3 separate regions of the Homo sapiens genome follow, and regions 1 and 2 are each linked to region 3. Evidence: fine-mapped expression QTL. A gene starts in region 3. Each other region holds a variant in brackets. All regions are shown on one strand. Distances are from middle to middle. Region 1 overlaps P2RX7 (purinergic receptor P2X 7). Region 2 overlaps CAMKK2 (calcium/calmodulin dependent protein kinase kinase 2). Region 3 holds the start of P2RX4 (purinergic receptor P2X 4).

What was found. PIP is the estimated chance that this variant, and not a neighbour inherited with it, causes the effect. A credible set is the group of variants that fine-mapping cannot tell apart.
Region 1: its variant is the best candidate, but not a certain one, in a credible set for the expression of P2RX4 in whole blood (INTERVAL, PIP 0.76).
Region 2: its variant is the best candidate, but not a certain one, in a credible set for the expression of P2RX4 in fibroblasts (GTEx, PIP 0.63).

The regions. Positions count from the first base shown.
Region 1 is chr12:121,141,680-121,152,345 of GRCh38, forward strand. All of the region lies in intron 1 of P2RX7 (purinergic receptor P2X 7), which reads left to right. All of the region lies in intron 2 of LOC105370032 (a long non-coding RNA gene), which reads right to left. Among named protein-coding and RNA genes, the nearest start is that of P2RX7, 14 kb to the left of the region's middle. RefSeq lists an enhancer at 2,168-2,317. The variant A/G (reference allele first, on the strand shown) is at 4,678.
Region 2 is chr12:121,247,751-121,258,416 of GRCh38, forward strand. It overlaps CAMKK2 (calcium/calmodulin dependent protein kinase kinase 2), which reads right to left. Exons shown (of 17, transcript NM_001270485.2): 8 at 8,033-8,054; 9 at 7,800-7,888; 10 at 5,523-5,722; 11 at 4,911-4,964; 12 at 2,211-2,284; 13 at 2,037-2,124; 14 at 856-984. Among named protein-coding and RNA genes, the nearest start is that of P2RX4, 43 kb to the left of the region's middle. RefSeq lists enhancers at 1,191-1,270, 7,843-8,343. The variant TA/T (reference allele first, on the strand shown) is at 4,359.
Region 3 is chr12:121,204,227-121,214,892 of GRCh38, forward strand. P2RX4 (purinergic receptor P2X 4) reads left to right here and starts at 5,903. Exons shown (of 12, transcript NM_002560.3): 1 at 5,903-6,072. The coding sequence starts at 5,939. LOC105370032 (a long non-coding RNA gene) reads right to left here and starts at 5,846. Exons shown (of 4, transcript XR_001749352.3): 1 at 5,623-5,846. RefSeq lists a silencer at 5,609-6,348 and an enhancer at 6,679-6,728.

The DNA.
Region 1 (10,666 bases), 63 kb before region 3:
ATATAACACCTACTGAGTACTGCTGAGGACTTAGCATGTGCCGGGTTCTGTTCTTAGCATGTGACATGTATTGGCCTATTTGATTCTCCTACATAATCCTGGAAGATTGGTTGTGGGAGTGGGTGATCATGACCTGAACAGCCTAACCATGTTTAGGGAACACTCTGTGTTATGCGTTCCACCACACAATCCATGTCACAGCTGAATGTCCCAGTTTCCCTTGCAGCTAGGACACAACAGGAGACCCAAGCTTTCCAAACATATGCCCCAGGCAACACTTTGATACACAAGGAATAACACTGGATGCTGGGTGTGCACAGAATTCAAATTCAGGAATGGAGGGAAGTACTGCCCTTTGACCCATACAATAGGGGATCCCCTTCCTTGGACCCCATGGCTTAGAGGGCCCCACTCTGTCCCTCTGCAGACTGTGAGCTGCCCTATGGAATGAGGGGTGTCTGAGGCTGTATTAGTTTCTATTTGTTACACAGCAGTGGAAACTAATACAGTCCCACAGGCCTAAATCAAGGCGTCAGCAGGCTGAGTTCCTGCCTGGAGACTCTGGGGAAAATTCACTTCCAAACTCATTTTTGTTGTTGGCAAAATTCAATCCCTTGAGGCTGCAGGACTGGGCTCTGCTCCTCACTGGCTGTCAGCCTGGGGCCACTCTCAGATTCTGAAGTCCTCCCACATTCCCTGCCACATGGTCCTCTCCATCTCCAAGCCTGCTATGACACAACGCATTGTTCTCATGCTTCAAATCTCTGACTTCTCTCCCGGGACCAGAAGAAGAATACTCTCTTCTTTTAAGGGGCTCATGTGATTGGGTCAGGTCAACTCTATCATATCATGGAGTCTCACCGTCTTGCCCAGGTGGGTCTTGAACACCTGGGCTCAAGTGATCCTCCTGCGTTGGCCTCCCAAAGTGCTGGGATTACAGGCGGGAACTGCTGTGCCCAGCCAAGGCCAGCATCTTCAGACTTCTCTGCCCTGTTTTCACATGGTCTTCTCCTCTTTGTGTGTGTGTCAAATCTCCTTCTGCCTCTCTTATAAGGACGCGTGTAATAGCACTCAGGGCCCACCTGGATGACACAGGGTCATCTCGCCATCTCAAAATCGTTAACTTTGGCCAGGTGCAGTGGCTCATGCCTGTAATCTCAGCACTTTGGGAGGCTGAGACAGGTGGATCACTTGAGGTCAGGAGTTCAAGACCAGCCTGGCCAGCATGGTGAAACCCTGTCTCTACTAAAAATACAAAAGTTAGCTGGGCGCGCACCTGTAGTCCCAGCTACTCAGGAGACTGAGGCAAAAGAATCTCTAGAACCTGGGAGGCAGAGACTGCAGTGAGCCAAGATTATGCCACTGCACTTCCAGCCTGGGGGACAGAGTGAGACTTCATCTCAAAAAAAAAAAAAAGATGACTGGGCACGGTGGCTCACATCTGTAATCCCAGCATTTGGGAGGCCCAGGTGGGCAGATCACCTGGGTTCAGGAGTTCATTCGAGACCAGCCTGGCCAACATGGTGAAAGTCTCTCTCTACTAAAAAAAAAAAAAAATACAAAAATTACCCAGATGTGGTGGCAGGTGCCTGTAATCCCAGCTACTTGGCAGGCCGAGGCAGGAGAATCACTTAAACCTGGGAGGCAGAGGGTGCAGTGAGCTGAGATCACTCTGCTGCACTCCAGCCTGGACGACAGAGCGAAACTCCATCTCAGAAAAACAAATTAACCAGGCATGGTGCTGCGTGCCTGTAGTCCCAGCTACTGGGAAGGCTGAGGTGGGAGGATTGCTTGATCCTGGGAGGTTGAGGCTGCAGTGAGCTGTGTTTGTGCCACTGCACTCCAGCCTGGGCGACAGAGTGAGACCCTATCTGAAAAAAAAAAAATCGGCCAGGCGCGGTGGCTCACGTCTGTAATCCCAGAACTCTGGGAGACTGAGGTGGGTGGATCACCTGAGGTCAGGAGTTCGAGACCAGCCTGACCAACAGGGTGAAACCCCGTCTCTACTAAAAATACAAAAATTAGCTGGGCATGGTGGCAGGCACCTATATAATCCCAGCTACTCGGGAGGCTGAGGCAGGAGAATCGCTTGAACTCAGGAGGCAGAGGTTGCAGTGAGCCGAGGTCATGGCATTGCACTCCAGCCTGGTGGCAGAGTGAGACTCCGTCTCAAAAAAAAGAAAGTCTCTTTTTACAACTTTTTTGAGGTATAACTTACATATCAGAAAATCACCGGTTTTAAATATACATTTCAATGACTTTTAGTAAATTTCCCAAGTTGTGCAACCATCATCACAATCCAGTTTCAGAACATTTCATCAGCCCAGTAAGAGCCCTCACACCCATTAACAGTCACTCCCCACTCCCACTTCCTCCTGGTGGTTGCTCAACCCAGGTAACCATGAATCTATTCTCTGCCTCTGGAGATTTGTCTTTTCTGGACAATCTTTCTTCTTAAACTCAGCAGAGTGAGTTCTGTTGTTTAGAACTAGAAACCCTGCCCAATAGAATACTAATATCCTCTTGTTTTGCAAGGGAGTTAGAGTCTCGCTCTGTCGCCCAGGCTGGAGTGCAGTGGTATGATCTCGCCTCACTTCGACCTCTACCTTCCGGATTCAAGCGATTCTCCTACCTCAGCTTCCTGAGTAGCTGGGATTACAGACGTGCACCAACACACCTGGCTAATTTTTGTACTTTTAGTAGAGATGGGGTCTCACCATGTTGGCCAAGCTGGTCTTGAACTCCTGACTTCAAATGGGCCACCCGCCTTGGCCTCCCAAAGTTCTGGGATTACAGGCATGAGCCACTGCACCCAGCCCTAATATCCTCTTATTACAAAAGAAGAAACAATGACTCAGAAAGATTAAGTCACTTACCCAAGGTCATGTAGTCAGTAAGCAATAGAGCTGAGACTGAACCTCACTCCAAAGTCTATGCTCTCACTAAAGTATTGCAGTGTAGAGAGTAGAGGGGACAGGGTGAGACTGGAGGAAGGGAGGGCATTTAGGAGACTATTGGGATGTCCAGATCTGAGAGCTGTTGGCGACCTGGACTGGGGAGGTGATAGAGGCAGAGGAGAGAAGTAGATGAATTTGAGCATATTAGGAAGTGAAACAGTAGGATTTGGCAACTGAACGGGTGAGTGGACAAGAAGGAGAGGATGAGTCAAAGAGTGCACCATGCTTCTGGCTTGGGCAACTGATGGGTACTGGAATAACTTGCTGGGATAGGAAATGCAGGAGAAACAGCCAATTTGGGGTGGAAGATGAGGTCAGGACTAAAGGCATTGAGTTTGAGGTGTCTATGGAATGTACAAATGGAGATGTTGAATGGATGGTTGGATATACGAATCTGCAGCTGAGATGTAGGTTTCTATATCACCAGCATATAGACGGCAACCAGAACCCTGGAAGAAGGTGCAACCGACCAGCAAGAGAAGATGTAGATGAGAAAGCAAAAGGGCCTAGAACACGCCCCAAAGGAGTGCTAACCTTTAAGGCGTGGGAGCGCAGAAGTCCCCAAAAGATTCTGAGGAGTAGCCACGGCGATCCAGTGAAAGTCAGGCACAAGTGGACTCCTGCAAGCTAAGGGAAGGAGGCGAGGGAAGTGGGGCATGGTCACAGTCAGTGTCAACTGCTGCTGAGAGTTCCAGGAAGGTCAGGTCCATGGTGTATCTATTGGATTTAGTGACAACGACATTGTTGTTTACTTGGCAAGAGAGGCTTTAGAGAAGGGATGGGGGTGGGAGCCAGACTAGAGTGGGTAGAGGAGTGAGTGAATCAAGATGCGGAAGTGGATGTGATGACTCGCCCTTTCTTTCTTCTTTCTTTCTTTTTTTTTTTTTTGAGATGCAGTCTTCCTCTGTCGCCCAGGCTGGAGTGCGATGGTGTGATCTCCACTCACCACAACCTCTGCCTCCTGGGTTCAAGTGATTCTCCTGCCTCAGCCTTCCAAGTAGCTGGGATTACAGGCATGTGCCACCACACCCGCCTAATTTTTTGTATTTTTAGTAGAGACGGGGTTTCACCATGTTGGCCAGGCTGGTCTCAAACTCCTGACCTCTTGATCCACCTGCCTCAGCCTCCCAAAGTGCTGGGATTACAGGCGTGAGCCACCGTACCCGGCCTGGTGACTCACTCTTTCAAGGGACTCAGCTATAAAGAAGAGAGGCATGGAGTGGTGGTAGGATGGATTAAGCTGGGGAGGGGAGGCATTTTTAAGATGAGAAATGATGTTTAAATGCAGATGGAAATGGGACAGGAGAGAAACGGAAGTTGATGGGATAAATGAAAATTATCATCATCATCTTCCTCACCATCACCAGCAGCAACCACAAGGAAAGCTCGTTCTGCTCTGGGACTGCCCTGTTAGACATTTCTTCCTTATACTGAGCCACAATCTATCTCCCTGTAACTTTCGCCTTTGGTTAGAGTTCTGCCTTGTGTCCCTCTTCTACTCTTCAAATGGCTGCACGCTGCTACTATGTCTGTCCTCTTCTTCAAACTCACAGCCCCCATCCTACGGGCCCTGTGCTCCCAGCCTGGTGACCCGACCCTCTACTGTCCCAGCCAAGTTCACATGACCATCCTCTTATTTGTCAAGCCTCTCTTTTTTTTTTTTTTTTTTTTTTTTTTTTTGAGGAGTCTTACTCTGTCCCAGGCTGGAGGGCATGGCACA[A/G]TCTCAGCTCACTGCAACCTCTGCCTCCTGGTTTCAAGTGATTCTCCTGCCTCAGCCTCCTGAATGCTGGGATTACAGGCATACATCGCCATGCCTGGTTAATTTTTGTATTTTTAGTAGAGACGGGGTTTCACCATGTTGGCCAGGCTGGTCTTGAACTCCTGACCTCCAGTGATCCCCCTGCCTCAGCTTCCCAAAGTGCTGGGATTACAGCGTGAGCCACTGAGCCGGGCCAAGCCCCTCTGAAGAGGCAGTGTGCACACTCTTGCTTTGCTGATAGAAGCATGAAATGGTTCAAGTTTTTGTGATTTGGGAAAATGAACTCAGCTATAAAATGTGCACACCCAGAAGTTGTCCTATGGACTTAATGTCTTAGGGGTGAGAAGAAGCTTGTGCAGGGATTCCTGGCAACATGAATGCGGGATGGACAGACAGTGAGCACAGTGTTGAGGAGCACAGCCTGAGTGCATCTCCCTGAGATCAGGAACAGGACAAGGATGCCCGCTTTCACCGCTGCTGTTCGACATTGTACTGGAAGTTCTAGCCAGAGCAATTAGGCAAGAAAAAGCAATAAAAGGCATCCAGATTGTAAAGGATGAAGTAAAACTATCTTTAGTCACAGGTGGCACAATCCCATATAGGGAGAATCCCAAAGAATTCACAAGAAAACTGTTAGAGCAAATAAACTAATTCAGTCAAGTTGCAAGGAACAAGATCAACCACAAAAATTAATTGTGTGGGTTTTTTTTACACCAGCAATGAACATTTGAAAAGGAAATTCGAAAAAGTATTCCATTCACTGTAGCATTTAAGAAAGCTGAGGCTGTGAAGCTACATGGCTGTGTTTGGAGCTGGTGCTGCTATTTACCATGTGACCTTGGACAAGCTTCTCACTTCATTCATGACACCGTTTATTCAGCTATTAAGTGGGGGTAATAATAGTACCTTCCTTATAGAGTTGGTTTTTTGTTTTTGTTTTTGTTTTTGGTGGGGGAGAGTAAGGATTGCAAGAGTTAATATATGTTAGCAAAATGGACTTAGAAGAGTGGTTGGCACATGGTAAGGACTATATTAGGGTTACCAAAAAATGTTTATAATTGGGAAAATTGAACAAAGGTTCCAGTAAATATCCATCCCAGAGGCTGGTTGACAAATTATCACAATGTACCTTTTAGCTTGAACCATATGGAACTGCCTATATTCTATAGCTATGGCCTACAAAATGCAAAATGGGCAGTTTTTTTTGTTGTTGTTTGTTTGTTTGTTTGTTTGTCTTGAGACAGTCTCAGTCTGTCACCAGGCTGAAGTGCAGTGGCACGATCTTGGCTCACTGCAACCTCTGCCTCCCAGGTTCAAGCGATTCTCCTGCCTCAGCCTCCCAAGTAGCTGGGATTACAGGTGTGCACCACCACGCCCAGCTAATTTTTGTATTTTTAGTAGAGATGGGGTTTCCACCATGTTGGCCAGGCGGGTCTTGAACTCCTGGCCTCAATTAATCTGCCTGCCTCGGCCTCCCAGAGTTCTGGGATTACATGAGTGAGCCACCGAGCCCAGCCAAAATGGGCCGTTTCATATGTTCAATTTAAACACTAAGATACTCTTTAGCCACTGAAAATGACTGTGTATCATAGATCTATCTTTATCACAGATCTATCTTTACTGTCATAGAAAGAACTAATAACATATTATTGAACAAAAATAACAAGTTACAAAACAGCTTGCAGCCACGTTTGTAACATCAGTATATCTATTTGTGTGTCTAGGTGTGGACATAAAGAGATATCTAGAAGACACTCCCATTGCCTATGGGAATGACTTGGGCTGGGATCTTTTTTATTTATTTATTTATTTATTTATTTATTTATTTATTTATTTTGAGACAGAGTCTCACTCTGTCACCCAGGCTGGAGTGCAATGGCATGATCTTGGCTCACTGCAACCTCCGCCTCCCAGGTTCAAACGATTCTCCCACCTCAGCCTCCCAAGTAGCTGGAATTATAGGCACCCATCACCGCACCTAGCTAATTTTTGCCTTTTTAGTAGAAATGGGGTTTCGCCATGTTGCCCAGGCTGGTCTCAAACTCTTGATCTCAAATTATCCACCTGCCTCAGCCTCCCAAAGTGCTGGAATTACAGGCGTGAGTCACCGCACCCAGCTGTGATCTTAATTTATATTTTTTCTTTTTAACCCTTGATTTTTACCCTGTTTGACTGACTTTAGGAGTCTGACCCCCAAAACTGCAAAAGAATAAATTAGTGTTGTTGAAAGCCACTAAGTTTGTGGTAATTTGTTAGAGCAACAACCAGAAACTAATACAATCGGGATTAAACTTGCCCTGGGGGTGCTGGCTCTCCCCCACTTTCTTCTCAGAGCATCTCTTGGGTCCTCGCCCCTTGCTGAGCCCCCACCATGGCCGGGTGGACCAGCGATGGACCTGATCGGATTCTCCTCTTGGGATTTTAAATAAGAGATGCAGAGGCTGCACGCCAAGCTTCTCTGTGCCGCACTGCAGGCACAGTCCTGGCGCTACTGTTCTTTAGGGGTCCATGAAGATGTTTGTTGGCCTGGCTTAGGTGTGAGCTAAGAGATACAAGGGATACACTTTGGAGGCTCAGCCCTTTGATGTTACCTTTGCGCTGGAAGCCCAGGGGCTGTAAGACGGAGAGGAACTTTGCTGAAAGGGAGGTCCTCCCTGCAGAGCTTGAAGAGCAATCTAACCATGCTGGCATGGGGCCCATCCCACCTGTGATGCCAGTGTAAGTCTGTGACAGTCACTCATATTCAGAGCATGTGGATTGAGACTCTGAAGAACGACTTTATGGTGGGCACCTTCATCTCCATCTGGTGGGTCCAGAGCAAGCAGCCTCAGGGTCCCATGGGCCCAACCTCACCCTCCATCCTTATTTCCCTGCCACTCCAGGGCTCCTCCTCAGCCAGACTTGCCTGTGAGTGCCCCTTGATGGCTGTATTAGTCTGTTCTCACGCTGCTAATAAAGACATACCCAAGACCAGGTAATTTATAAAGGAAAGAGGTTTAATGGGCCCACAGTTCCACATGGCTGGGAAGGCCTCACAATCATGGCAGAGGGCGAAAGGCATGTCTTACATGGTGGCAGGCAAAAAGTGAATGACAACCAAGCAAAAGAAGAAACCTCTTATAAAACCATCAGATCCCATGAGACTTACTCACTATCACGAGAACAGTATGGGGGAAACTGCCCCCATGATTCAATTATCTCCCACCAGGTCCCTCCCACAACACATGGAAATTATGGGAGCTATAATTCAAGATGAAATTTGGATGGGGACACAGCCAAACCATATCAGTGGCCCTGGCTTCTCTCCCATTAGCTCTGTTCTACTTCCCAAAATCTTTCCAGCTTTGTTCTTTTTTAGAGACTGGAGTCTCACTGTGTTGCCCAGGCTTGTCTTGAACTCCTGGGCTCAAGGGATCCTCCTACCTCGGTCTAACAAGTAGCTGCGAATATAGGTGCACACCACCACACCCCCACAACTTACCCATCCTCCCCGGCTCAGTGAAATCCCTAGGTCCTTCACACTCCCGTTAGCTCCAGGTACCAGCGGCTTTGCCTTCTACAGAATGCATAACATTATAGCCTCTTAGAGCAAAAAGGTCATGGGGATGGGGAAGGCTGGGAGTTCTCTCTTCATTCAGGGATTAAACCTACCACCTGGAGGGGTGACATGGCTCACCTTAGTCACCAAGCAAGGTCGGGAGAGTATTTCTGGGATGGTCATTAGCACTTTCTTTCCAAAGGGAGGATACTACAAACTCACTTTCATGATCACAGTATCCCCCCCGACAGGTAAAGTGTGCAAACTCGCTTTCATTCCCTTTTTGTCTTTGACGCAGCTCTGAAGCATTTTAATTCTTAAAATTTACATGTTCATGATGACACAGAGACAGGTTTTCTGTTTAGGAGAGGGCCTGATTCCATTAAGGCTGATCGATCATATGTTGCACATTCTGGGATAAATATGAGAGATCAGAATTGAGCTTCCCAAATGGTGGGTCACATGACCCAGTGTTGTTCCAGGAGAACGTTGCAACATCCAGCATGAGAAAGCGCTGCATGCACCATGTATGTGTTGGGATGCTGGGCTGAAATGTATTAATGAGCAAGTGTTATCATATTTGTCTATGGAATTCTATTTAATAGCTATGTCTCGTATGTGCTGATTGGGTCTCAAATCTGGGTATCTTACCCCAACATCTTTCTTGAAAATCCTTCTTTTTAAATAAATGTTGGCCGTGTGCACTGGCTTATGCCTGTAATCCCAACACTTTGGGAGGCCAAGGCGGGTGGATCACCTGAGGTCAGGAGTTCAAGACCAGCCTGACCAACATGGAGAAACCCCATCTTTACTAAAAATACAAAAATTAGCTGGGCACGATGGTGGATGCCTGTAATCCCAGCTACTTGGGAGGCTGAGGCAGGAGAATCACTTGAACCTGGGAGGCGGAGGTTGCAGTAAGCTGAGATCGCGCCATTGCACTCCAGCCTTGGCAACAGAGTGAGACTCCGTCTCAAATAAGTAATAAATAAATGTTATAGAAATACTAAAGTGTATTGTGCATAATATAACACCCACGTACCACCATCCAACTTAAGAAATAAAGCATTACTAATCCAGTTTTGCTCCCTGCAAACTCATCCTTCATCCCATTCTCTTTCCTTTTGCTTTATAAACATCCTGCAGCCAGGCACAGTGGCTGCACCTGCAGCCTGAGCTACTTGGGAGGCTGAGATGGGAGGATCACTTGAGCCCAGGAGTTTGTGGCTGTCGTGTGCTGATTGCACCTGTGAAATAGCCACTGTGTTCCAGCATGGGCAACATAGCAAGACTCCATCTCTAAATGAAATCCTTTTTTTTTTTTTTCTTTTTGAGACAGAGTCTCACTCTATCACCCAGGCTGGAGTGCAGTGGCGCCATCTCGGCTCACTGCAACCTCCGTCTCCAGGGTTCCTGCCTCAGCCTCCGGAGTAGCTGGGACTACAGGCACATGCCACCACAACTGGCTAATTTTTGTATTTTTAGTAGAGACGGGGTTTGGCCAGGTTGGTTTCGAACCCAGGACCTCAGATGATCCACCTGCCTCGGCCTCCCAAAGATTACAGGCATGAGCCACCATGCCCAGCCTAAAAGAAATCCTGAATTTGACATTTTTAATTCCCTTGTTTGTTTTAATATTTCTACAGCACATATATGTCTACATATATAAAAAATATAATTTTTTATTGGGGTGAAATTCACATAACGTAAAATTAACCACTGTAAACATGAACAATTCAGTGGCATTTAGGACATTCATAGTACTGTGCAACCACCACCTCTATCTAGCTCCAGAACATTTTCATCACCCCAAAAGGACACTCCATGCCCCCCAGGAGTCACTCCCCATTTCTTCCCACTCTGTCCCCTGCAACGACCAATCTACTCTCTGTCTCTGTGGATTCACCTATTCTGGATATTTCATATAAATGGAATCATACAATATGTGGCCTTTTGTGACTGGTCTCTTTGACTTAGCTGGGTGTGGTGGCACGAGCTACCCACCTACTTGGGAGGCTGAGGCAGGAGAATCGCTTGAACTCCAGCCATAAATTATATTGTTTTCAAGGTTCATCAATATTACTCGCCCAGGCTGGAGTGCAGTAATGTGACCTTGGCCCCCTGCAACCTCCACCTCCCCGGTTCAAAGGATTCTCCTGCCTCACCCTCCCGAGTAGTTGGGATTACAGGCGCACACCACCACACCCGGCTAATTTTTTGTATTTTTAGTAGAGAGAGGGTTTCACCATGTTGGTCATGCTGGTCCTGAACTCCTAATCTCAAGTGATCCACCCACCTTGGCCTCCCAAAATGCTGAGATTACAGGTGTGAGACACTATGTCAGGCCTAGTCAATTCATTTTCACTGCTGCAAAGCATCTCATTTTAAAAAATTATTTTATTATTATTTTTT
Region 2 (10,666 bases), 44 kb after region 3:
CAGGAGCAGCATCTGGGCTCCTACAGGGGCAATCCTTCACAGCTGGACCTTCTGTGCCTTTCCAGCCAGTCTCAAGGGTCCCTCCCAGAGCCCAGGGGCCCGCCGGCCCACTGGGACTAGTGCTGGCCAACTGCAACCAGGCCTTTCGAGGTGGCTGTGGTGGGACAACCTGCTGGTCTCTGTCCCCAAGCCTGCTGCCTGGAACCTGGATCCCTGGGACTCTTGGTCTCTCTCTTGGAGCTAACTGCCCTCCTGGACAGGGACTTGGTCAGTGGCGATTCCCAGAGCCTCCAAGGTTAGGCCTGAGGACTCTACATTCTGGCTCCTTCTTCCTGGGTCAGGATCCAAATTCAAGGCCATAAAAGGGGACCTACTTGCTCCTAAGCAATTCTCACTCTCAGGAGATGGGCAGAACTTTCTGAGTGTGTGCGTGGAAGTCCCTGCCCCTACCCCTGGTGGCTGCCCACACAGCAGACGTGAGATATGCTACGCCATCCACCCTGGAGCCTAAAATTCCAGCTAGGCGGGAATCCTGGCTTAGAGACCTGGGCTCCGGCTCCCAACCCTTGCCCCTGCCTGGAACTTCTCCTAGTTCCTCTCCCCTGATGAGCTCTGAAAGCAGGAATTCCAGAAGGATAATCTTCCCCTTCCTATGGTAACATGGAACCTGGCTCAGAAGATGCAGGGGTCACCTGGCCTGATACATGACCAAGGCCCAGAGGCCAGCAGCTGTGGATTAGGGGTGGCCCCCGGACATCTGACTCCCGGGCACCCGCCTGTGTCCGGCCTGTCCTGGCCAGGCCCCACCTCAGGCTCCTGGGTCCCTGCTCTGGGTCAGGGGTCCATCCACCTTACCACGGTTGCCAAGCTGGGAATGTGTTTGACTGAGTTCTCGACCTCCTCTTCAGTCACTTCGACCAGCGTGCAGTTCTCATCCTCCGACGGCAACGGCTCCGCCCCATGCCTCGTGACCCAGGGGTGCAGCTTCAACGAACGACAGGAGGGGTGAGGGGCAGGTGTGGCTGGCTACCGGGGGGCCCTGCCAGCGAGCGGAGCCACAAGGGCATGCAGGACGGAGAGGCAAGGGCCTGTGGTCAGGCATGCAAAACAGCTGGCGAGCAGAGGGCAGGGGTGAGCAAAGGGGCGGAAACATGAAGACGGAGAGACAGGACGGGAGGAGCTACAAGGCTGAAATGGAAGTGGGGCGATTCTCCATCCGGCCCCGGGTCTTGGCCGAAGTGATGGGAATTTGGCATCTGCCTTGCCTGGCTGCCCAAGGAGCATCCATCACTCCTCAGCCACAATCCCTGACACCTGGGAGGCTCAGTGCACAGCAGGCAGCATTCTCCCCATCTCACAGCAGGAGAGGCTTGGAGGCATGGTGGGACCAGCTGGCAGGACAGGATCAGGAGAGGACCCAGGCAGGGGTCTGCCCCCTTGGGTCCAAGCCCCAATCCATGATTTTTTGGGCTGCCTTCTGTTAAGACCTTCAAATGCCAGTTAGCTAGCTGCCTAGGAAGTCCCAGGGCAAATCTCTAGATTTCCTAGAGGGCCAGATATATGTGTGTGGCATTAGTGGAGATGTGTAGGGGAATACACTTTCCTAAAAGTGCTTTCTGCAAGAGGGTGGGATTCAGCAGGCTGGGGAGGTCGAATTGCTCATTAATTTCCTCCCATCCTCACTGCAGTTTCTCAAAGGGACGGGCCTTTGGAAAGGACCTGAGCTCTGGGAATAGGGTGTGGAGCACGGAGGCCCCATGCCGGTCTGCAGAGGGTGGATCCCATCAGCCCACGCCAATCAGAGCAAGTGCAGGCTGGCGGGTCATAGATCCCACTCCCACAGTCACAGTGCACACAATGCCCAAATCTTCCTACCCAGCCCTCAACAGCCCCCAGCAGCTCAGAGGCCCTGGGGCATAGGAGAACAGCGGTGCCAAGGAGGGTGTGGTGCTGTGGACACAAGGGTGTGGGGTCTGGCTGAGGCATGGCTGAGCCAAACAATTCCGAGCACGGGGCACAGGCTGAGCCAAGGGTACCTTGATTTCCGGCACCACGATCCTCGACTCGGGGTTCTTGTCCAGCATACGGGTGATCAGGTCCTTCAAGTCCTCAGCTATGTCGGGCCTGGGGATGGAGAGGCGTCAGGGTGGCAGACACGGGACCGCCAAGAACTCGGACAGGAGAGATGCGGGACGGCGGGAGATACTCACTGGTCTGGAAATTCCAGGGCCTGACTCTTGATCTTACTGTGTAAACACATGATCCGCTCGTCCATGAATGGGCACTGCAAAGAGGCCAGGGACAGAGTGGCAGTCAATGGCGGCCACATCTGCCCTTCGAGGGCCACCTGTGCTGTGCCACTCCACATAGGATACAGCAGAGAAATCAACAATTGCGGCCCAGGCTAGGGGGCAAGCAGTTCCCATTCTCCCCGAGAATGGCCAAGACACAGGGGTGTGGGGCCTGGCCGACGCAGGGCAGAGCCAGGAATGGCCCTCTCGAAGGGCTAGAGCCTTTCCCAAGCACACTGCAGGCTCCCTCTGTAGCTGGGCCTCAGTTTACCTACTTACACCAAAGCAAACACTGCTCGTCACCTACTTGCCAGGTGAACAACAGGAACAACAAGAATAACACAAAAGACTTTGTGTTATTTGTGGCAGCAGCAGTGATTTTCAAGGGCTTAGCCTGGATCGCGCCACGCCCTGCCCTGAGGTTTTCATTCACTGTTCCCCGTCCCTGGAATGTTCTTCTCACCAACATCTACGTGGCTTGGTCTCTCCCACCATGCAGGTGTCTGACTAAAGCTCACCTTCTCAGGGAGGACTTCCTGAAGCCCTGTCTAAAACAGACAACCCCCAATGCCGCCACCGCCCACATCACTCCTCATCGTAGCACTTATCCCTGACGTTATCGTACAGATTTGTTTATTGTTTAACCCCTCCCACGGGAACGTTAGCTCCAAGAAGGCAGGGATTTCTGGCTGTCTTGCTCACTGCGGACTCTCCGTGCCTAGGAGCGTTCCTGCACAAAGTAAGGGCTCAATAAATATCTGCTGAATTAATGGATACTTGAATTATTTCTGTCAATCCTCTCAGAAGTCATCAGAAATAATAAGTAGTATTCTCATTTTACAGAAGAGAAAAACAGAAGTTCAGAGAAATAATGTGTCCCAGGAAGTACGAAGAGGGATTTAAGCCTAGATTCAGCTGACTCTGAAGCCTATTTTTGCACCACCTTCTGGGTGACAAATCGATGCTTTCACCCAGCTGAGGGCCTGACTCAAGAGCAGCTTGGTCATGTGTGCTGGAAAAGGAATCCTTACACGGGACACTGAAAATGTTGGAGAAGGTGGCAGAGAGGTACCTGAACCACCCGTCTAAGGAAAACGATTTCATTAAGAGCAGTGACTTGAGCTCTACCTAATCACTGCCTTCTAAGGCATTTGGAAGGAAGAGTGGAGATGGTGGTAACTTACTCTGAAATACATTAAGAAACCAGATGGACTGAGGGATGGGTAAGGAATGAACAGACAAGCACAGGAAAAGGTTAATATAGTAGAATCCAGGTGGTGGGTATGTGGGTGTTCACTGGACACTTCTTCCAGCTTTGCTACATGATTGAAAAATTTTCTAATCAAATATTGAGAGGCAATCGGTATAAACTCCTTTACTTCTTCATGGGACCAGTTTCTTAGGCTTTCCTCAATAAGAACACAAGCTCAGGAAAGGGAAAAATCTACGTTTTTATTGCTCACATAATCAAACTGAACTTCAGAGTTAAAACGAGAAGGCCAGGCGTGGTGGCTCACACCTGTAATCCCAAATCCCAGCACTCTGGGAGGCCCAGGCTGGCAGATCATTTGAGGTCAGGAGTTTGAAACCAGTCTGGCCAACATGGCAAAACACTATCTCTACAAAAATACAAAAATTAGCCGGGTGTGGTGGCTGGCATCTGTAGTCCCAGCTACTCAGGAGGCTGAGGCAGGAGAATGGCTTGAACCCGGGAGGCGGAGGTTGCAGTGAGCCGAGATCGCACCACTACACTCCAGCCTGGGTGACAGAGCAAGACTCCATCTCAAAAAAAAAAAAAAAAAAAATAGAGAGAGAAGCCCCCAGATATCAATAATAACAAAATAACAACAACAGAAAAGCCCAAACAGCACTCCCTAAATCAATAATGGTAAACAGCTTTTAACTTCCATTCCAATGCTACCCCTCTGACAAAAGCTTCTAGGAATACCCTGACGGAAAGAACATCAGAGCAGTATCAGGCTCAGGAGGAACGAGCACAGTTATTGATTAGTGATGTCTGCCTTGGGCTCAGAAATGGGAGAGGTGGCAGAACTGCTGTCCTTGCCC[TA/T]AATTTATCAACTATTTATAAACTCTAGAGCCTCTGCCAATCCTTCTGTTTTAACAGATCATTTTTTCATAGATATGATCATGACATACATACACATGTATATTTAGGAAGGCATCCTTTTTCACATTGAGATCTAGGTGTAGAAATAAAATAACTCTTCTCTTATTTTATTTTTTGAGACGGAGTCTCGCTCTTGTTGCCCAGGCTGGAATACAATGGTGCAATCTCAGCTCACTGCAAGCTCCGCCTCCTGGGTTCAGGCGATTCTCCTGCTTCAGCCTCCAGAGTAGCTGGGACTATAGGCATGCGCCATCACGCCTGGCTAATTTTTTGTATTTTTAGTAAAGACGGGGTTTCACCATGTTGGCCAAGCTGGTCTCCAACTCCTAACCTCTGCCTCAGCCTCCCAAAGTGCTGGGTTTACAGGCGTGAGCCACCATGCCCAGCCTAAAATAACTCTTAAATAAGTAAGTACTGTCTCCCCGCAAGGGTGACTATTAACCCAGGGGCCACCCAGCAGTACTGAGGGGACAGACACCCCGCCCTCTTACCTGGCCAAAGACAAAGCAGTATAGTGTCACACCCATGGCCCAAACATCCAAGGCCTGCAAGAAAAAGAGCTTAGTGTGAGGGCATAAGGGGTGGTCCAGCCTCCAATCCTCCAGTTTTCCTTTGGGGAACCACCTCTTGACTTTCAGCCCTTGGAGTTGGGGCGGGACCAATCTTGTCTCCTAGGCTCTGGGGCAGGCACAGGATCCAGGCCAGGCCAATGAGAGCACCACTACCCCCAGCCACAGTGATTGGTTCAAGCATGGGCACATGACCCATGTTGGGCCAATCAGAGCCAACCCCAGGGTTTTCACAGGCACTATTCAGAATGAGGAATGCTCTTGCCACTGAGGTTGGCAAATGATAGAAAGTAACCTGGTCCCTGGGTGCCTGACCCACCTGTGGAGGAAACCAAATAAGAAAAACAACTGAAAGATGGCGGGAGATGGTTTCTGTTTGAGTCCCTGGATCTAGCCAAGCCTGAAGCCTACCCCTCAGTATCTTGATCCAGGGGATTCACTGTTTAAGCCTGTGTGCGTTGGGTTTCTGCTGCTTACAATCCAGAAGACACTAACACAGGCAGAACTCTGTGGCTGAGGCAGGCCCAAGCTTACCTTCCCAGAGAAGATCTTGCGGGTCTCAGAGAGCGACTCGGGTGCCATGAAGGCGGGCGTGCCCACGGTGTTGGAGAGGAGCGCGTCACTGCCCTTGAATTCATTGCTCACACCAAAGTCAGCGATCTTGATGTGCCCATCTTCTCCGACCAGGAGGTTGGAAGGTTTGATGTCACGGTGGATGATCTTCTGGTAGTGTACTGGGGAGGCGTAGACAGCAGGTGGGAGATAGGGGCAGGAAAACCTCGTGAGCACCTCTATGCGGCCACATGGCCTGGAGACACAGGCATGGCACCCCTCTGATGCCTTGTCTCCCACAGCCCCAGGCCTTTTCCAACCTTCCACTCCCCAAACCCGCTGGGCACTGACATGCTCTAAAAGATGAGGGGAAAAGTGTCTTCAAGGAAGTCCCAGCCCACCATCACCCCACCCCTTCTCAACAATGACACATAAAACACTGCCAATAGCAATTCGTAATCGCCTGTTATTTATTAAGTCACAAGTGACAGTGCATGGAAAGTTTTTGCTGGGCTTGGCTCACAGCTAGTTGTGAAACTGACAGTGAAACATAGTTTCATTTACCAACAGCCAATACTCAACTGATTTACCAAACCGACAATGACCTGAGCAGGCCGATTTGAAATGTGAACCACACACAGAACTCGGGGCTTGGCTAACTCCTCCTGGCTGGATATCAGCCCATGGTACAGGACAGTTCTATGGCCTGGAAGACCCAACTGCCATTTCTGGGGTGATGATGATGATGAAGACGATTTCAGTGAAAGCAGCAGCAGAGCACCAAGTGAGGGGCCCGGCCCTGCGTTGTGTTTCACATTCACATTTTACATTTAATTAAACCTCACAACCATCCTATGTGACAGGCAGGGATAAGAGATAACGTGGTGGCCGGGCACGGTGGCTCACGCCTGTCATCCCAGCACTTTGGGAGGCAAGGCAGGGGGATCACCTGAGGTCAGGAGTTCAAGACCAGCCTGGCCAACATAGCGAAACCCCATCTCTACAAAAAATACAAAAATTAGCCGGGCATGGTGGCGTACACCTGTAGTCCCAGCTACTTGGGAGGCTGAGGCATGAGAATTGCTTGAACCCAGGAGGCAGAGGTTGCAGTGACCTGAGATCGCGCCACTGCACTCCAGCCCAGGCAACAGGGCAAGAATCTCAAAGGAAAAAAAGAGCTAAGATGTTTAACAAGCAGAAGCAGAAAGGACACCTGCCAATCAAACCACTGATGTGTACTGGCTGATCTCAGCCCTGGTGAGAGATATGTTATCCCCATTTTACAGATGAGGAAGCTAAGGTTCCAGGAGGTGAACAGGACCCTGATCCCAGGGTCACTGGGAGGAATAAGAGACAAAAAAAATAGAGCCCCAAACAGTGCCTGGTGCACATAGAAAGTGCTAAATAGTCACTATTGCTACTGCTCTTCATTTTGCCAAGTGGCAGGAAGAAGGGTTTTGGCTCGCCTGGACCATGGCCATAGGGTGGCTCTCTGCAGCTGGCCCTGATTCTGCATTTCACACAATTCTGTTTCCCACTATGATGGTTGATACTGAGTGTCAACTTGATTGGACTGAAGGATACAAAGTATTAATCCTGGATGTGTCTGTGTGGGTGTTGCCAAAGGAGATTAACATTTGAGTCAGTGGGCTGGGGAAGGCAGACCCACAATCTAATCAGCTGCCAGCGAATATAAAGCAGGCAGAAAAACGTGAAAGGTGAGACTGGCCTAGCCTCCCAGCCTATGTTTTTTTCCTATCTGGATGCTTCCTGCCCTCAAACGTCAGACTCCACGTTCTTTAGTTTTGAGAGTTAGATGGGCTCTCCTTGCTCCTCAAGCTTGCAGACAGACTATATTGTGGGACCTTGTGATCGTGTAAGTTAATACTTAATAAACTCCCCTTTATATATATAATTATATATATAATTTTATATATATATAATTTTATATATATATAATTATATATATAATTTTATATATATATAATTATATATATAATTATATATATAATTTTATATATAATTTTATATATATATAATTATATATAATTTTATATATATAATTATATATATAATTTTATATATATAATTTTATATATATATATGTATCTCCTATTAGTTCTGTCCCTCTAGAGGACCCCAATCCACCCGCCCACCTCCCTGTGCTCCAGGAAGAAAATAAGACACTTTCCACTTTGCACCCACGCTCAGAATGCTAACTACCCACTGGGTGAGAGCCCTCCCGCAGGCCCTGCTCACAGTACTCGATGCCTTTGATCAGATCCTGGAAGTAGAAACGGGCCTGGTCTTCAGAGAGTGGTTTGAGGGTGGGCACTTCCATCACGGGCCTGAAAGGTCGACACTCATGTGAAACACAAAGCAGACCCGCCAGCCCTTGCCCTCTCTCATGAGCAGAGCCCAGTGGCACCTCACTCAGCTATGCAGCTACAGAAGCTTCTTGCATCACCCCTGCTGGGAGCTGGGACACTCACCCTTGGTTGACCAGTTCGAACACTGTAGGGAAGAAAAGGGTGAAACTGTTACATGGGAAACTGAACATCCATCTCTCTCTGTCCTCCCCACCTCCCAACCACCTCCAGAAACACCAAGAAAGACAGAAACTAGTATTAGAGCTGGGGAGAGGAACAGTCCACTGAACCAAGCTGGCCAAGGTCCTGCTTTGCTAAATTTCCATCAGAAGGCAAAGAACCAGGGATTTCTGACGTCCCCAGGCCCACAGTCTGGCTTGACTTCTAGTGCTCAAATTGGCCCAGGATCCACTGGTCAAAGAAAACACGGCAGGGGGCTGGGCACGGTGGCTCACGCCAGTGTAATCCCAACACTCTGGGAGGCCGAGGTGGGCGAATCACCTGAGGTCAAGAGCTCGAGACCAGCCTGGCCAACGTGGCAAAACCCTATCTCTACTAAAAATACAAAAATCAGCCGGGCGTGGTGGCAGGTGCCTGTAATCCCAGCTACTTGGGAGGCTGAGGCACAAGAATCACTTGAACCTGGACAGCGGAGGTTGCAGTGAGCCAAGATTGCACCCCTGCACTCTAGCCTGGGCAACAGAGCAAGAATGTCCCAAAAAAAAAATTTCTTTGAGATGAAATTTACGTAACATAAAATTACCCATTTTAAAGCGTGCAATTGAGTGGCATTTAGTATATTCACAATTTTGGGCAATCATCACAACTATCTAGTTCCAGAACATTCTCATCACCTCAAAAGAAAACCTCATACCCATTAGCAGTCACTCCCTATTCTTCCCTCCCTCAATCCCCTGGCCACCACCAATCTGTTTCCTGTCTCTATAGATTTGCCTGTTCTGGACATTTCATATAAATGGAATTGTACACTATGTGGCCTTTTGTGTCTGGCTTCTTTCACTTAGCATCATTAGCACGTTTTTAAGGTTCATCCACACTGGTGCATGGATCAGTGCTTCATTCCCTTTAATGGCTGAATAATATTCCATTGTATGGATAGACCACATTTTCTTTGTCCATTCATCTGTTGAGGGGCATATGGACTGTTTCTACTCTTTGGCTGTTGGGAAGTGCTGCAATGAACGTTCGTGTACATGGATATGTTCATGTGTGGATATCTGTTTTTGGTTCTTTTGGGTATATACCTAGGAGTGGAATTTCTGGGTCACGTGGTATAGTTATTTAATTTGATTCTGCTATGACAAGCATAAATTGGAATACAAGGCTGTACTTTAGGAAGTTAAAAAAAAAAAGAGCACAGTCGATTTCAAAATCCAGTGGAGGATGACTCTGGGGTTGCTTGTTGTTCTGGAATCATACACCCACAATGAGATGAGCATGTAATAGAAACCAGAGGGGATACCCCATTTTCCATGATGGGATTATTATGCACTGCATGCCGGTATTAAAACATCTCATGTAACCTATGACTATATCCACCTACCATGTACCCACAAAAATTAAAAAAACTTTTTTTTTTTTTTTGAAATGGAGTCTTGCTCTGTTGCCCAGGCTGGAGTGCAGTGGCACGATCTTGGCTCACTGCAACCTCTGCCTCCTGGGTTCAAGCGATTCTTCTGCCTCAGCCTCCCGAGTAGCTGGGACTACAGGCACCTGCCACCACACCCGGCTAATTTTTTGTATTTTTAGTAAAGATGGGGTTTCACCGTATTGGTCAGGCTGGTCTCGAACTTCTGACATCAGGTGATCCACCCACCTCGGCCTCCCAAAGTGCTGGGGTTACAGGCAAAAAAATTTTTTAAAAATGAAACCAAAGGGTTGTTTCAAAGCTCTCCAAGGGCTGAGGTGGCCAAGGGGAACAGGGAAGCTACTCAGACAAAAAGAAGGCTTAAAGGTTCTGATCAGGAAAAGAACTGAACTCTCCCAGGCCTTCCCCATCTTCAGTTTCATCAACCAGTGTGAGTTAGGGCAGATTTGCTATTGCTTCAGGCTGTAGTTAAAAACAAAGGCAATGCTGCTAAGGTACAGCTTCTACAGACAACCCAGCGCTGGCCCCCTCAGCTCTGGCCTTTCCTGCCTTGGTTATTTAAGTCTTCACTTGCAAGCTTCATGAATTTCTGCACCATCCTCCCACCCACCCAAGCACCATAAATCAGGTGGCATGAGGGAGGGTGGCCTGTTGAAACAGGTCTATTTTCAGTCGCTAACAGTTCAACCACTTTTGGGGCTGAGCAGTGGGTGGGAATTTTTTAACCTCTAGAAATAGAGATCGAGTTTTCTACTTTTTTTTTTTTTTTTTTTTGAGACAAAGTCTAGCTCTGTCACCCAGACTGGAGTGCAATGGCACGATCTCGGTTCACTGCAACCTCCGCTTCCCAGGTTGAAGTGATTCTCCTGCTTCACCCTCCCAAGTAGCTGAGATTACAGGCATGTGCCACCACATCTGGCTAATTTTGTATTTTTAGCAGAAACATGGTTTCACCATGTTGGTTAGGTTGGTCTCGAACTCCTGACCTCAGGGGATCCACCTGCCTTGGCCTCCCAAAGTGCTGAGATTACAGGCATGAGCCACCACACCCAGCCCCCTCCTCCACCTTTTTTTGTTTTATTGAGACAGGGTCTTACTCTGTCGCCCAGGCTAGAGTGCAGTGGCACAATCATAGCTCACTGCAGCCT
Region 3 (10,666 bases):
GGTATATACTTTGCTTTTCTTGAGACCTTGGTTGTTTACTCCCTGTTTACTGGAATTATTACTGAGACATAACTCACATACCATAAAATTTACTCTTTTTAAATGTACAATTCAGCGGCTTTTAGTATATTCACAGGTTCCGCAACTATCACCACTTTCTTTTCCAGCACATTTTCATCACCCTAAATGGAAACCTTGTACTCACCAGCAGCCACTTTCCATCCTTTCTTTCCCCCAGCCCCTGGCAACCACTAATCTACTATCAGTTTTGTTTTGTTTTGTTTTGTTTTGAGACGGAGTTTTGCCCTTGTCGCCCAGGCTGGAGTCCAATGGCGCGATCTCAGCTCACCGCAACCTCCGCCTCCCAGGTTCAAGCGATTTTCCTGCCTCAGCCTCCTGAGTAGCTGGGATTACAGGCGTGCACCACCATGCCCAGCTAATTTTGTATTTTTAGTAGAGATGGGGTTTCTCTATGTTGGTCAGGCTGGTCTCAAACTCCTGACCTCAGGTGATATGCACGCCTCAGCCTCCCAAAGTGCTGGGATTACAGGCGTGAGCCACCACACCCGGCCTCTACTTTCAGTTTCTATGGATTTGCCTATTCCAGACATTTCCTATACACAGAATCATACGATAAGTGCCCTGTGGCATCTGGCTCCTCTCACTCAGCGTGGTGTTTTCAAGGGTCATCCGTGGTGTGGCGCGTGTCAGTGCTTCCTTCCTGTGGCTGAATCATGTTCCATTGTATGGATGGACCACATTGTGTTTATGTGTTCATTAGTTGATGGACATTTAGATTGTTTCCACTTTTTGGCCATTATGAATGCTGCTATGAATACTCATGTACAAGTTTTTGCATGAACATTTTTCTTTTTCAGAGGAGGGGTGGAAGTTTATTTGAAATGCCTTAGGATGGGAAAGGAAGCTGTGCTTGGAAGAGGCCCAAGTGGGCATGGGAAGGTTAAAGAGACAAGGTCAGATGCCAAACATAGCTTTTCTTTTCTTTTTTTTTTTTCTTGATACGGAGTCTCGCTCTGTCACCCAGGCTGGAGTGCAATGGTGCGATCTCGGCTCACTGCAACCTCCCAGGTTCAAGTGATTCTCTTGCCTCAGCCTCCTGAGTAGCTGATTACAGGGATTACAGGCATGCACCACCATGCCTGGCTAATTTTTGTATTTTGAGTAGAGATGGGGTTTCTCCATGTTGCCCAGCCTGGTTTCGAACTCCTGGCCTCAAGTGATCCACCTGCCTCGGCCTCCCAAAGTGCTGGGATGACAGGCGTGAACCACGGAGCCCCGCCCAGAACATATCTTTTTAATTCTCTGGGGAAATCCTAGAAAAGGAATATCTTGGTCCTACGGTAATTTCTATGTTTAACATTTTGAGGAACTGCTGTTTTCCAAAGCAGCTGGCCCATTTTACATTCCCACGAGTAAAAAGCAGCTGGACCATTTTACATTCCCATGAGTAATGTGTGAGGGTTCCAGTTTCTCCACATCCTTGCCAGCTTTTTGATTGTCCATCTTTTTAATTATAACCATGCTAGTGGGGAGGAAATGGTATCTCACTGTGGCTTTGATTTGTATTTCCCTAACGATAATGATATCGAGCATCTTCTTGTGTTTATTGATCTCATGTGTATATCTTCTTTGGAGAAATGTCTATTCAGATATGTTTGCCCATTTTTAAATAGGGTTGTCATGTTATTGGTGAGTTTTAAGAGTTCTTACGATATCTGAAATACTAGATCCTTAACAGATATAGGATATGTGAATATTTTATCATTCTGTGGGTTTTTCCCTTTCTTGATGGTAACTTTGAAGCACGAACTTTTCAGTTTTGACAAAGTAGTCCAATTTATCTATTTTTTTCTTTTGTTGCCTTGCTTTAGGCAACAAAATCTAAATCTAAAAAACCACTGTCTAATCCGAGGTCACAAAGATTTGCCCCTATGTTTTCATCAGAGAGATTTATAATTTTAGCTCTTATATGTATGTCTTTGATCCATTTTTAATTTTCTCTCTTTCCTTATTATTTTTATTATATTATTTTTTTTAAGACAGAGTCTCACTGTGTCACCCAGGCTGGAGGGCAGTGGCACAATATCAGCTCACTGCAGCCTCCGCCTGCTGGGCTCAAGCAATTCTCCTACCTCAACCTCCCAAGTAGCTGGGATTACAGGCATGCACTACCACACCCGGCTAACTTTTGTATTTTTAGTAGAGATGGGGCTTCACCATGTTGGTCAGGCTGGTCTCAAACTCCCGACCTCAAGTGATCCACCTACCTCAACCTCTCAAAGTGCTGGGATTACAGGTGTGAGCCACACCTGGCCAATTTATTTTTTTAAAAATTTTATGTAGCTGGGACTACAACTACAGGTGCGTGCTACCATGCCCAGCTAATTTTTGTACTTTTTGTAGAGATGGGGTTTCACCATGTTGCCCAGGCTGGTCTGGAACTCCTGAGCTCAAGTGAGCCACCCACCTCGGCCCCCCAAAGTGCTGGGATTACAGGTGTGAGCCACCGCATCCCGCCTTCTTATTTATTTTTGAGACAGGGTCTCACTCTGTCACCCAGGCTGGAGTGCAGTGGCACAATTGCAGCTCACTACAACCTTGACCTCCTAAACTCAAGTGATCCTCCTGCCTCAGCCTCCCAAGTAGCTGGGACCACAGGCATGCACCAGCATGGCTGGCTAATTTTTAAAGTATTTATAGAGATGGGGGTCTCCCTATGTTGTCCAGGCTGGTCTCAAACTCCTGGGCTCTAGCAATCCTCCCAACTTAGTCTCTCAAAGTGCTGGGATTACAGGAATGGGCCACCATGTCTGGTCAATAAAGTTATTTTTTAAAAAGAGATAATCCAAGAGCAACAGTGTAAACAAAATAACTTTTCCAAATCATTTTTTAGGATCAGCTTCTTTGGTCAGGCCTAATGATGTTACCAACTAGTAATTTATAAAAACTTGCATTTCTACATTTTTCTTAACTGACCCCATTCCAAAACACAAGCAAACCATCTAAATTCAAGATTTGTGAGGTTGGGACTAACTCATTACTATAGGGTAAGTATGAATGAAGGCTGGAAATGTGTTTTGATTGCTGCCATTATTTTTTATTTTTATTTTTTCTGAGATGGAGTTTCACTCTTGTCGCCCAGGCTGGAGTGCAATGGCGTGATCAGCTCATGGCAACCTCCACCTCCCCGGTTCAAGCAATTCTCCTGCCTCAGCCTCCTGAGTAGCTGAGATTACAGGCATGCGCCACCACGCCCAGCTAATTTTTGTATTTTTAGTAGAGACGGGGTTTCTCCATTGTTGGTCAGGCTGGTCTCGAACTCCCAATGTCAGGTGATCCACCCACCTTGGCCTGCCAAAGTGCTGGGATTAAAGGTGTAAGCCACGTGCCTGGTGTTTTTTGGGGTTTGTTTGTTTGTTTTGAGATGGAGTCTGTCACCCAGGCTGGAGTGCAGTGGCACAATTTCAGCTCACTGCAACCTCCGCCTCCCAGGTTCAAGCAATTCTTCCTGCCTCAGCCTCCCGAGTAGCTGGGATTACAGGCACCTGCCATAAGGCCCAGCTAAGTTTTTTATATTTTCAGTAGAGATGAGGTTTCACCATGTTGGCCAGGCTGGTCTCCAGCTCCTGACCTCACATGATCATCCGCCTGCCTCGGCCTCCCAAAGTGCTGCAGTTATAGGTGTGAGCCACCGTGCCCAGCCATGTTTTGATTCTTAAGGAAATGATTTTTAAGTCCCCTTCCAATGAGGATTTAGCAATGGAGTTTTCTTCTTCTACAGATAATTTGAGGCTTCCCAATTGCACCAAACTCCATTTGGGCAGATACCTCACCTGTCCACTCCATAGCCCTAGCATCAAGAAAAGTGCCAAGCACACAACAGGCACTCAGTAAATTTCTGTCAAATGAATGAATAAAATACCACCACCTTTTCCTGAGACCATTTTGGACCAAGGCTGGCATGGGCATCTCTGTTCCTCCCTCTAACTTAAGAATTCCATCTCTTAGAGGCAGATGCTGCCTGTTTTCTGCAAATTTTATTATTCACCTTTCTATATTTGGAAAAACAAGTTGGTGTGGCTTACTTAGGAATCTCATATCCAGGAAATGAGCTAAAAATGTTGTATCAAAGATTATGCATAGGATCCACAAACTAAGAAGCAAGCAGATGAGAGCGGTTAGAGACATCGTGGTATATTTTCCGGAAGAAATGGTCCATGGATTAAAAATTGTCATTATGATGAGTCTGCAGTAACACAGAAACCACGTAGTGCGAATCAGAAAATGAAAAGCACAGCCATTGACTATGATTACAAACCAAAACTTTATACCAATTACCTGTTGGAATTTATGCTGCATGAAGGCAGGATATTTTGCTTGTCCTGTTCACTGGACAGTACTTGGCATAAAGGATGTGCTTATGAATATTTTCTGGGAAACTAAATATAACATTCACCTGTGAAAACACATCTGGGCCAGGCGCAGTGGCTCACGCCTGTAATCCCAACACTTTGGGAGCCCGAGGCGGGTGGATCATGGGAGGTCAGGAGCTGGAGATCAGCCTGGCCAACATGGTGAAAACCTGTCTCTAATAAAAATACAAAAATTAGCTGGGCGTGGTGGCGGGCACTTGTAATCCCAGCTACTCAAGAGGCTGAGGCAGGAGAATTGCTTGAACCTGGGAGGCGGAGGTTACAGTGAGCCGAGATCGCGCCACTGCACTCCAGACTGGACAAGAGTGAAACTCCGTCTCAAAAAAAAAAAGAAAAAGAAAAAGAAAAAACGTATCTGAAGGGAATGAACAAATACACATGCGGAAAATTGTATTCATGGGGTAGAACGGTGGCTGTTTCCCCCCCTTTCACTATTTTCTCTCCTAAAGTTGTGATAGCATTTTCTCAGTGGAAAGGATGACCACAGAATTATCTCCCCTGGGCTGCAACTAAGGAAGTATTTGGAGTGAGAATGCGACCAGGCTTCAAATCCAGGAGGGGTATTTTACAGGGCGTGTGGCTCTCACCCAGGGCTCACAGGACACCTGATATTTAGGCTGTTCCCCAAGAGGCTAAGGACAGCGCGGCCCCAGCTCCCCCAACCACAGCTGCCCAAGTTTAGGAGCCCGCACTCGTGAGCGATGGCTACTCCGCACAGCCCCGGGGTCCTCTACGGAAATCCCTGGCACCTATCAGTACCCCTAAGGGAGGTCGCTCGTTACCCCTCACTTGAACTCTGTCCCAAATGGGAGGTCACTCTCTCTTCGCGGACCCCATCTTCCCCGAAAGGGTCTCTTGTTCTCTCTGGCCCTCCTGAGAAGGTCATTACTCCCCAACTCGCCTTTTTTGTTGTTTTTTGGTTTCTGGTTTATTGAGGCAGGGTCTCGCTTCATCTCCCAGACTGGAGTGCAGTGGCGCGATCACAGCTCACACGGCAGCCTCTACCTCCTGGGCTCAAGCGATCCTCTCACCTCAGCCTCCCTGGGACTACAGGCGAGCGCCACTACGCCCGCTTTTTTTTTTTTTTTTTTTTTTTTTTTGTATTTTTGATAGAGACGAGGTCTCGCTATGTTGTCCAGGCTGGTCTCTAACTCAAGATTCCTCTCACCTCGGCCTCCGCAAGTGCTGGGATGACAGGTGTGAGCCACCGCCCCCGGCCCCTCGCCCGCCTTTTGAAGGAGCCTTTCGTCCTCAAGGGCGAGGCCACTCCCCCCCCGCGAGTTCCATGCCCCCTAGAGGGTCATCGTTCCCGACGGGGAGGTGGCGCCCTCCCCCGGGCCCCGGGCCCCGACCGCCCGTGCTGCCTCCTTCCGGGCCCTCCTCCGCGATGACGGCGCCGCCAGCAGGCCAGGCGGACTGGGCGGGGCTCCGAGCGGGGACTGGGACCCAGACCGACTAGGGGACTGGGAGCGGGCGGCGCGGCCATGGCGGGCTGCTGCGCCGCGCTGGCGGCCTTCCTGTTCGAGTACGACACGCCGCGCATCGTGCTCATCCGCAGCCGCAAAGTGGGGCTCATGAACCGCGCCGTGCAACTGCTCATCCTGGCCTACGTCATCGGGTGAGCGTGGGGCCGCGCGGGGGGCGCGGCGGGTGCTGCCCTCGCGTCCGCGCCGTGCGGCGGCTCATCCTGGCCTCGGTCACCTGGGCGAGTCCGGGAGCGGCGAGCCGAGGCGGTGACACCTTCCCTGGGCCCCAGCCGCCGCGCCGGGGCCCCGGGGGCGGGAGGCTGCTTGCTGCTGTTTTAAAACCACAGCCTGGGCCAGGCGCGGTGGCGCAAGCCTGTAATCCGAGCACTTTGGGAGCCCGAGGCGGGACCATCGCCTGAGCCCAGGAGTTCGAAACCAATTTGGGCAACATCGTGGGACCCCGTCTCTGCAAAAAATTAAAAATCATCCGGGCCTGGTGGCGCGCGCCTGGGGTCCCAGCTACTCAGGAGGCTGAGGTGGGAGGATCGCTTGAGCCCAAGAGGCTGAGGCTGCAGTGAGCTATGATCACACCACTTAACTCGAGCCTGGGAGACAGTCCGAGACCCGTCTGTTTACAAAATAAATAAAGGCAAAGCCTGGCTAGGCTGTTACCCTCTCCTGCCTGACCCCCCATAGTGCCCCTTGGCTGTAGGGGCTTCGCCCTGAACGTCTCAATCTTCGCTCTCCACTTCCCATCCTGCTGATTTGCTGACAAAACCAAAGCTTGGAATTTCCGCTTGGTTCCTTCTGGGTGGGTGGCTTTTGGTCATTTCTTTTGATCACTATGCGGTGTCACTATGTGGTAGTAGCGAGGTCAGACTGTAGCGAGTGTTTAAAGTTTGCTTCCTTTGTTTTCTGGGCTTGTGGGGCTTTTTGTGGTACCTGCCCTAGCCTAGTCAGTCATTCCCCATGCTGCCCCCTTAGGCTAGAGATGCCCTACCGCCCTCAGGCCTCGCTGAATGTGCCATTGTACTTGAAGGCACCTGTTACTTTTTTAATTTTTTTATTTTTTTGAGACGGAATTTCTCTCTTGTCGCCCGGGCTGGAGTGCAATGGCACGATCTCGGCTCACTGCAACCTCTGCCTCCCGGGTTCAAGCAATTCTCCTGTCTCAGTCTCCTGAGTGGCTGGGATTACAAGTGCCCGCCACCACGCCCGGCCAATTTTTGTATTTTTTAGTAGAGACGGGGTTTCAGGCTGGTCCTGAACTGACCTCAGGTGATCCGCCCACCTCAGCCTCCCAAAATGCTGGGATTACAGGCGTGAGCCCCCACGCGGGGCTGGCACCTGTTACAATTGAATACAACGCGAGAGAGAAGATGATAATTACCTTGCCACCTGGGGCCACTTTAAAGGCTTACCTGGGGTGTTCTGGTGTCTACAGCTGCTGGGCTGACACGTATTGCCTAGTGCAGTGGTCTCCAAACTGCACATTGGAACCATCTGGAAATCTTTGGCTCCCATCCCCAGACCCTTTTTTATTTTTTTGATGGAGTCTCCCTCTGTCGCCCAGGCTGGAGTGCAGTGGTGCAATCTTGGCTCGCTGCAACCTCCACCTCCCTGGTTCAAGCGATTCTCCTGCCTCAGCCTCCTGAGTAGCTGGGATTACAGGCACCCACCACCATGCCCGGCTAATTTTTGTATTTTTAGTAGGGACAGGGTTTCGCCATGTTGGCCAGGCTGGTCTCGAACTCCTGGCCTCAGGTGATCCACCCGCCGCAGCCTCCCAGAGTGCTGGGATTACAGGCGTGAGCCACCGCGCCCAGACGCATCCCCAGACCTTCTGATTTAATTGCTGCAGAGTATGATCGGCTGCCCAGGTGATTCTCATGTTCAGCAACGTTTCGGAACCAATGAACTGTGTTTCCCAAGTTTACCTGATCATGGAAGACTCATCTGAGGAATTGTTTAAAAGTAACAGATCCCCCCGTCTTTGGGGTGAGGTTTGGAATCTTAACACTGCCCAAGGGAAGCCCAAGCAGGTTTGGCTTCCAATATCTGTCAGCAGCAGCAGTAGATACAGACAGTATTCAAGAGGATGGCTTTCCAGGTGCAGACTCAACATCAGAACCACCTGGCCCACACCCAGATTTGGACTCATTGGCTCACACCTGTAGTCCCAGTGCTTTGGGAAGCCAAGGTGGGAGGATTGCTTGAGGCCAGGAGCTCAAGACCAGCCTGGACACAAGACCAGCCTGGACAACATAGCGAGACCCCATCTCTAAGAGAAAAATAAAGTTTAAAATGGTAAATTGTACTGATGGAGCAGTGCAAAAAAAAGAATTTTTTTTTTTTTTTTTTCTGAACACGGTGGCTCATGCCTATAATCTCAGCACTTTGGGAGGCCGAGGCGGGTGGATCACCTGAGGTCAGGAGTTCGAGACCAGCCTGGCCAACATGGTAAAACCCCGTCTCTACTAAAAGTACAAAAAATTAGCCAGGCCTAGTGGCTAATGCCTGTAATCCCGGCTACATGGGAGGCTGAGGCAGGAGAATCGTTTGAATCCAGGAGGCGGAGGTTGCAGTGAGCCCAGATTGCGCCACTGCACTCCAGCCTGGGCAACAAGAGCAAAACTCCATCTCAAATATATATATATATATATATATATATATATATATTTTTTTTTTTTTTTTGGAGACTCACTGCTAGCCAGTTAACTGAACTCACATCCCTGGTTGGACCTGAAGCATTTGGGGGCAGGAGCTCCCCTGCAGCTTTTTGCTTTTGGCGTTTGCTGCTAGTGGGAGGATCAGTGCACATCTACCTTAGGGTACCTGTAAAATTACAACTGCGGAAAATATCCATAGTGGTGTTGCACTGTATGGTAGCCACTAGTAACTTGCACCTGTTGAACACTTAACCGTTCCTACTCTACACTGAGATGTGCTATAACCTTAAAATACACACTGGATTTCAAAGACATAGTACAGAAAAAGAGGCTGGGCACAGTGGCTCATGCCTGAAATCACAGTACTTTGGGAGGCTGAGGTGGGAAGATCGCTTGAGCTCAAGAGTTTGAGACAAACCTGGGCAACATAGCGAGACCTTGCCTCTACAAAAAAATACAAAAATTAGCCTGGCATGGTGGCACACGCCTATAGGCCTACCTATTTGGGAGGTTGAGGCAGAAGGACTGCTTGAACCTGGGAGGTTGAGGCCACAGAGAGCTGTGATCACACCACCCTCCAGCCTGGGCAACAGAGCAAGACACTGTCTCAAAAAAACAAAGAGTACCACTATCACATGAAAACATTTTTTATTGATGACATGTTAAAATATTTTGGATATATTGGGTTACACAGAATATATCATTACAATTAATTTTTCCTGTCTCTTTTTTCTTTTTTTCTTTTTAAACGGCGCCTTGCTTTGTCACCCAGACTGGAGTGCAATGCACTGCAACCTCTGCCTCCCAGGCTCAAGTGATTCTACCATCTCAGCCTCTGGAATTATGGGACTACAGGTGCACACCACCATGACTGGCTAATTATTGTGTTTTTGTTTGTTTGTTTGTACAGATGAGAAATCTCATCTCTACAATCATGAGGTTTCCATGTTGCCCAGGCTGGTCTCGAACTCCTGAGCTCTAGCAATCTGTCTGCCTCGGCCTCCCAAAGTGCTGGGATTACAGGCATGAGCCACCGTGCCCAGCCCTTTCTATTTCTTTTTACTTTTTGACATGGCTACTAGAAACTTTTAAATTACAGGGTCTTGCCCTGTGGTAGCTCACGCCTGTAATCCCAATACTTTGGGAGGCTGAGGCAAGTGGATCCCTTGAGCTTAGGAATTTTGAGACCAGCCTGGGCAACGTAGTGAAACCCCATCTCTACCAAAAATACGAAAAATTAGCTTGGCATAGTGGCGCACACCTGTGGACCCAGCTACTTGGGAGGCTGAGGTGGGAGGATTGCTGTAGCCTGGGAGGCGGAGGTTGCAGTGAGCCAAGATTGTGCCACTGCACTTCAGCCTGGGCGACAGAGCGAGAGCCTGTCTCAAAAAAAAAAATATGTGGCTCGCGTTATGTTTTTATGGGACAGCGCAGCTCTGTAGGATTCCTTATGACGCATTCACTATCTCGGTCATGAGAATCTTTAAAGCAGTAAATGCTTTGCTTTTGTCCGTCTTGCTATAATCAAAACTGACTCAGGACCTGCATTAAGGCTCTTTTTTTTTTTAACCTCATCTCTTAACTTTTTGATGCAACTCATCTTAGTGAAATTGTGGTCTCCTCCTACAGCAACCCTCCCTCAAAAAAAGACCGAACACGCAATTCTCATCTATCTAACTCTGTTAACAATCATATGAGGAGGAAATAATCACATGATAATGAGTGGCATGAAACCCTGTGTCTCTAAATTAAGCAACTCACTGTACTTGATGAGTACATCAGTCTTCCTGCCCCAAGCTTTTGTGTGTCAGACTGGAATTAAATGGAAGCTTACACTGCAGCTGAATTCCTAGAAGCCCTGGACTTGTCAGGGGAAAAGCCCATGGGGGGAAAGCCCATCTCTAGGCTGGGCAATGAACTTGGAGACTGCTCGATCACACACACTCATAAGTAACAAAACCATTAATTTCTTTTCTTTTTTTTGGTGGAGGGACAGAGTCTCACTCTTGCCCAGGCTGGAGTGCAGTGGCATGATCTCAGCCCACTGCAATCTCCACCTCCCGGGTTCAAGTGATTC